Linked DNA regions of Homo sapiens. The protein of the gene in region 1 purifies or fractionates together with the protein of each later gene. This does not show direct contact. Each region holds a gene or a part of one and is shown in the gene's direction. Other genes may lie near its edges.

Region 1 (3,500 bases):
CCTTTCCTTATATTTGTGCTTTTGTTTTGTTTTAATGGAGAGAAAAATCAACAGTAGAAACCACTTACAAGATTACTTACTACTGTAGTGTGGTATAAAGTAAAAGATTTTACAAAATTAAAAACATAGTGATGGGAAAATATGGTTAGAGTCAAACAGTCTGATTTTTTTTTAAGGTTGCTGGTTACAGATCAATGTCATGAACAAACAGTAATTTTTTTTGGAGGAGCATGCTTGGAGATGAAGTATAGCAGTATAGCAGACATCCGATCATTGTAATCTGTTTTCAGCCCCCTTATTTATATTCTCTTCTGCCACCTTCTCATTTTCCCTCCCCCTTGGAGTTGATACCAGGAAGGACCTAGAATCAGCAATTTTCACTGACAGTCTCTATTATCTAACCCACGAAATTTCATCTTTCTACAAATGGGCCCCTCTTCCTGGCTGCACTTTCCTCCCCGCACTAACTTAACTCTTCTTCCTCAGTTATTAATTTCTCGCTGTTACCAAGTGATGACTTGCTGGATGGCAAAAGTGAACTCTTGGATTTAGTTTCAGCTGGAAGAATAAACCTGTAATTGTAGCCTGGCCTTTTCCTGGTGCGCTTCCCTGGGGGCCTGGCCTCACATTGGAGACGCTAAGCTTCCAGAAGCCAGACAGGCAAATCCCAATGGTGACCGATGCTCTCAGTTCTGGATTCCAAACTGGGGGGCAGCTGGTCTCTGCTCACCTGCCCAGCCAGAGTCTGCCTCCTGTGCTTGGTCCCCAACCGACTCAGACCAGGCTTCCTCACTATGAGCTTCAGAGGTTTTTGTGGGTTTTTTTTTTTTTTAACATTCTATCAACTTTTAAGTTCTGGGGTACATGTGCAGGATGTGCAGGTTTGTTACATAGGTAAACATGTGCCATGGTGGTTTGCTGCATGGATCAACCCATCACCCAGGTATTAAGCCGGAGCTGTGGAGTTTATACAGGAAGCCCAATACAGAGAATGTAACCAAGACTCATGCTTAGGAGATGGCTGCCCTCTCTCATCTGTCATCACTGGGGAGTCAAATGTTTCAAATGAATCAATTTCACAATAATTGAAATTAGCCCTTGAGGGACGCAATTCTTCCTTTAAACAATTCAAAAAGAAGCAAAGTAAAGCTATGTATACCACATGCAGATAGATGTAAAAACGGAACCTGATGAACTAATTCTGTACTCAGAAATTACTGACGGCATTTTACTTGAGAGACATGCGTGTCAGCCATTTCTGCCACGGGGGTTCTTCTGATGCTGTGATAGGCTGTGATGAGGAAGCCATTCCAAGTTGGTGTAGCAGGAGTTTGTGTGTCTTCTGGCTGGGCAGCCGGGGACCTCCGTGCTGTCGGAATGTGTTTTGTATATTGTCTGTCATGTCTCTTCCTAGTTTTTTCCAAAAGCCCTCTCTTTTAATATGACATTAATAAGACAATTAGAACTTAGTGTAAACTAACAGTAAATAGTACATATGTTTCAGTGCATGGACTTCGTATGTTCTTCTTAGTCTGCTCATGATGTCTTTTGTCAAAAAAACTTTCATTCTCATCTGCATTCTGGATCATTGAGGTTCCCAGAAAAGTGATTTCTGCGGGTTATATAAACAGTTATTTGCGACATCTCTTAATGTAACCTGGAAAGTTTCTAACCCAGACATTTAACTTTGTACTTCAACGCTGGTTTATTATCAAGCTTCGGAGGTTTTTCTGGGTTTTTTTTTTTTTTTGACATTTTATCAACTTTTATTTTAAGTTCTAGGGTACATGTGCAGGATGTGCAGGTCTGTGACATAGGTAAACATGCGCCATGGTGGTTTGCTATGAAAATACACATTTTAAGGGGAATGTGCTGGGGAGGGACATGCTGATGTGCATTGGTGAAAACTGAAGGGCGATGGTGAGATCCTCCTCAAAGTGAGCTCCTTGGCAATCAATCTTGCTGAGTGTTGCCACTGAAAGGAGAAAGGGAGTGCTCGGTGCGTCCTTACCCTTCAGGGGCAGGCGGACTGCTTGGGACTTTTATGTATATAAACCTATTGACTCTTCCCCCAAAGTCTATTGGGGTATGAGATTCCATTCACAGCCTCTATTTAACCATTTAACTTAGCCATTCCTCTGTGAATCCATGTTATTGCTGAAGATAATAATAATAATTTAGAAAAAAATCTCTAAGTGACTATAGTTTTATTTGACCAAAACTTGAATTTCGAGTCTGTCCTAGTTGATCTGTTGGTCATGCAGTCCTGGGACTCTGTTCCCCTCCGGGTCTCATCTATAAGATGTCGAAGGGGAGAGGGAAGCAGCAGAGAGGAAGGTGGACAAGATGGATAAGACGTCACCTAAGGTCCTTAGCATGTTGAAATTATATGATTTTGATCTAAACCTAATTGGTTACACTTCCTTTCCTGGTTAGATATTTATCAACAATGAATGGCACGAATCCAAGAGTGGGAAAAAGTTTGCTACATGTAACCCTTCAACTCGGGAGCAAATATGTGAAGTGGAAGAAGGAGATAAGGTAAATACTTAAAATAAATTTGCTCTAAGTAATTCAATTATGGATGACCAAAGGATAAGGAAACGGTTCGGCTTAGCTATAAGACAGAACTGGCCTATCCTGGGGGCAGGGCCTGGGCTAGCTGCGTGAATTGGCATGTGGTTCTCAGACGTGTGGCACAGAATGGCATCAATTACCGATGATCCTCTGCAGAGAATCATTCTCCCTTGATAGATGTTTCTCCTACTATGAGGATGACCTCAGCTATCCTCATCATATGGCTAAAGGAAAGGTTTTCTTTTTTCTTTTTTTTTTTTTTTTATCAATTATTTGGACCTGGAGGCATTAAAGAATCTTTCCAGAAAGCATTTCCCGCTGGTGTGTTTCACGAAATGAAGCTTTCTGGCAGAAGACACTTTAGAAAAAAATAGACACTTTGAAGGAAAAAAAATAGTTGCTACCCGGGTGATGCGGGGATAGTTAACAATGTAACCACCAGATTTCTTTTCTCCTAGAAATTTACATGAGCATGGAAAGCGGTAACCTTTATCACTCTATTTGCAAGTGCAAGGTCTATATAGTAATACAGAAGCTAAGGGACTTCCGAATGTGTCCTTTATACATTGCAAGGCCATCAAATCTATTCTGAATGTCAGTGCAGAGGTAAAGCCCTTCCACTGAGGGCAGGGAGATGTAAATGTTTCCTTAGCTGCTGGAGTGCTGGACTGATGTTCTTGGTCAGCAAACTGATGACGTTGGAAGTGGATGCAGTGAAGGGCGTGTGCAGAGTAGGCTTGGATTTTATCTTGCCCATGAGTTTTTGTGACAGACGTGCAAATGCACACTGGCCCCACCTATACAGACCCCCCTCTGTGTGGCACCTCATGACAGTTAGGCTCTGCTAACAAAGAAAGTGGCACAGAGGAGCTCATAGAAAAATGTGAGGGCATTGGGGGGAAGCCATGACATGGAATGGGGTT
Region 2 (3,500 bases), on another chromosome or scaffold:
CAAGAAAAAAAACAAACAAAAAAAAAAACAAGAAAAAGATGCCAAGAGTGAAAGTGGCATAGAATGGCAATGGCTTAGTTTGGGTGGGGTTCCAGGTAGAGGTTGAAAGGACCAAGGAACCCCCTACAAACCTGCAGTGCAGTGGCGCGATCTCGGCTCACTGCAACCTCCACCTCCCAGGTTAAAGCGATTCTCCTGCCTCAGCCTCCCAAGTAGCTGGGACTACAGGCGCCCGCCACCATGCCCAGCTAATTTTTGTATTTTTAGTAGAGACGGGGTTTCACCATGTTGGCCAGGCTGGTCTCAAACTCATGACTGCAAGTGATCCTCCTGCCGCGGCCTCCCAAAGTGCTGGGATTACAGGCGTGAGCCACCGCGCCCGGCCCCTACCTCAAGGTCTTTCATGTAATCCTATCCGCCAGGACCCCTTAGCCTTGTAAAGTCACACATTCACAGACTCCGGGGATCATCAGGTCGTGGATATCTTTGGGGGCACCAGTAGCCTACTGCCACAACACCCAGGCTCAGAGCCTGCGCAGAGCCTGCCCCCGGCTCCCCAGTGCCCTCAGGCCTGTGTTCACGCTCCTCTCGACTGCTCCGAGCCCGGGCGGACCTCGGCCACATCCGTCCTGCCCCGCCCTTCCCCCGTGAGCCCTGACACTCTTGCGTCAGCATTTTTAGAAATTGCTGGTGTGGGCCAGATGCGGTGGCTCACGCCTGTAATCCCAGCACTTTGGGAGGCCGAGGCGGGCAGATCACCTGAGGTCAGGAGTTCAAGACCAGCCTGGCCAACATGGCGAAACTCCGTCTCTACTAAAAAAGTACAAAAATTGGCCGGGCGCGGTGGCTCACGCCTGTAATCCCAGCACTTCGAGAGGCAGAGGCGGGCGGATCACGACGTCAGGAGATCGAGACCATCCTGTCTAACACAGTGAAACCCCGCCTCTACTAAAAATACAAAAAATTAGCCGGGCGTGGTGGCGGGCGCCTGTAGTCCCAGCTACTCGGGAGGCTGAGGCAGGAGAATGGCGTGAACCCGGGAGGCGGAGGTTGCAGTGAGCTAAGATCCCGACACTGCACTCCAGCCTGGACGACAAGAGCGAGACTGTCTTTAAAAAAAAAAAAAAAAAAAAAAGAAATTGCTGGAGTGCAGCCTTGGGACCTTTGCCCATTCTCCCGGCTCTCCCGTGACATTCTTTCTCTGGGCTCTTTGCCTAGTCCACGGAGCTTCCGTCTCCCCTGGAATGTCACCTCCTCAGGGTGTCACCGTCCCGGCTGTCCTGCGTGAAGGACCCTCCATTTTATTTGTGTCCTTGGTATTCCTTTGTTCATCCCTTGGTTGCCTGTTCTCTGTCTCTCTAGACTGGGTGCTCCAAGAGGTAGAACTCTGGTTTTTGTTGTCATTGTTGTTGTTTTTGAGACAGAGTCTTGCTCTGTCGCCAGGCTGGAGTGCAATGGCGTGATCTCGGCTCACTGCAACCTCCGCTGCCCGGCTTTAAGTGATTCTCCTGCCTCAGCCTCCCGAGTAGCTGAGATTACAGGCATGCACCACCACGCCCGGCTAATTTTTGTATTTGTAGTAGAGACGGGGTTTTGCTATGTTGTCCAGGCTGGTCTGGAACTTCTGACCTCAGGTGATCCGCCCGCCTTGGCCTCCCAAAGCGCTGGGGTTACAGGCATGAGCCACAGCGCCCAGCCCCCAGTTCCAGGAGTTTTTTTTTGTTGTTGTCATTTTGCATTTTTCTACATAGATGATGTCATCTATGAACAAAGAGTTTTATTTCTACCTTCTGTATCTATATGCCTCCTTTAAGGAGTTTCACTAGGAGATGCACACGTAACTCTTAAACCCACTGGCCTGCATGCTCTATACCTACATCTAATCTCTTCTTATAAGGACACCAGTCATATTGTCATATTGGATAAGGGCCCACCCTAATGACCTCATTTTTTTTTTTTTTTTTGAGTTGGAGTCTCGCTCTGTCGCCCAGGCTGGAGTGCAACGGTGCGATCTTCAGCTCACTGCAACCTCCACCTCCCGGGTTCAAGCAATTCTCCTGCCTCAGCTTCCCGAGTAGCTGGGACTACAGGCGTGCGCCATCACGCCCAGCTAAAATTTTTTGTATTTTTAATAGAGACGGGGTTTCACCGTGTTGGCCAGGCTGGTCTCTTGGCTAGGCTGGTCTCGAACTCCTGACCTCGTGATCTGCCCACTGTGGACTCGCAAAGTGCTGGGATTACAGGCGTGAGCCACCGTGCCCAGCCTTGACCTTATTTTAACATAATTATCTCTCTGAAAACCCTGTGGCCACAACAGTTGCTTTCAGAGGTACTAGGGAGTTAAGGCTTCAACACGTGAATTGTGTTTGGCAGGGCAGAAGCGAGAGGGAGAGAGACACAATTCATCCCATAACATGGGGAGACTGGGGCAATGGTCCAGATGAAAAAGAACAAAAGTCAATAGGGCACGGTGGCTCATGCCTGTAATCTCAGCACTTTGGGAGGCTGAGGTGGGAGGACTGCTTGAGCCCAGGAGTTCGAGACCAGCCTGGGCGACATAGTGAGACCCTATCTCTATTCAAAAAAAAAAGAAAAAGAAGAAAAGTCAAGAGGGTCAGGAGCAAGAGGGATACAACCTGGGGACTGATGGGCTGTGTTTGGAGACTGGGTTGCAGTGGGTATCCCCCTATGATTGGGACCCCAGAAGGGATTAGAACTGGTTGGTTAACTCCTTTCCTTGTGGTCTGCAGGCCATCTGGACCCGCTTCTTTCCTGCCTCCGAGGCTCTGAGGTCTGTTTTGGCCCAGGGAACTCTAGGAGACCTCCGGGTGGCTCGGGCAGAATTTGGGAAGAATCTCATCCACGTTCCCCGGGCCGTAGACCGGGCCCAGGCTGGGGGGGCCCTGCTGGACATCGGCATCTACTGTGTCCAGTTCACCTCCATGGTCTTTGGAGGGCAGAAGCCAGAGAAGATTTCTGTCGTGGGAAGGCGTCATGAAACAGGTACCATCTATCCTGGAATATTTCATGGTGATGGGAATGATTCTGTCTCTCTGGGAGCACTGAACTGAGGACAAGTCTCCAAGTCAATGAGAATTAGATCAGACACCTAGAGGAACAACTTTCCATGAAGCCAGAGAGGATCAGAGTCAAGACTGCAGGTGGGCACTCTCCTGGGACTTTGCTGTGTGATCTTAGCCAGCAGACTTAACATCTCTGAATCTTAATTACTTTACTGGTAAAGTGTCACTAATAGGGTTGTCATGGGAGTTAATGAAGTAACTGCTGAGGCAAATGGCAGTTAATAAATATAAAATTATTATTTTTTGAAGTTGTCTCAGTGAATCTTTGCTACAAAAAAGACTACCCCACTTGGCCAGGCGTGGTGGCTCACGCCTGTAATTCCAGCACTTTGGGAGGCCGAGGTGGCCAGATCACCTGAGGTCAGGAGTTGGAGACCACCCTGGCCAATATGATGAAACCCCATCTCTACTAAAAAT

Evidence for each region. Proteins that work in one complex are often made in the same cells at the same time.
Region 2: the proteins of ALDH1A3 (region 1) and DHDH purify together in Homo sapiens (co-immunoprecipitation; one large-scale study listed by IntAct). This does not show direct contact.

The regions. Positions count from the first base shown.
Region 1 is NC_000015.10:100,882,831-100,886,330, forward strand, and holds part of ALDH1A3 (retinaldehyde dehydrogenase 3), read left to right. Parts: intron 1-2,436; coding exon 2,437-2,541; intron 2,542-3,500. UniProt on the Homo sapiens protein: Catalyzes the NAD-dependent oxidation of aldehyde substrates, such as all-trans-retinal and all-trans-13,14-dihydroretinal, to their corresponding carboxylic acids, all-trans-retinoate and all-trans-13,14-dihydroretinoate, respectively.
Region 2 is NC_000019.10:48,936,699-48,940,198, forward strand, and holds part of DHDH (trans-1,2-dihydrobenzene-1,2-diol dehydrogenase), read left to right. Parts: intron 1-2,750; coding exon 2,751-3,003; intron 3,004-3,500.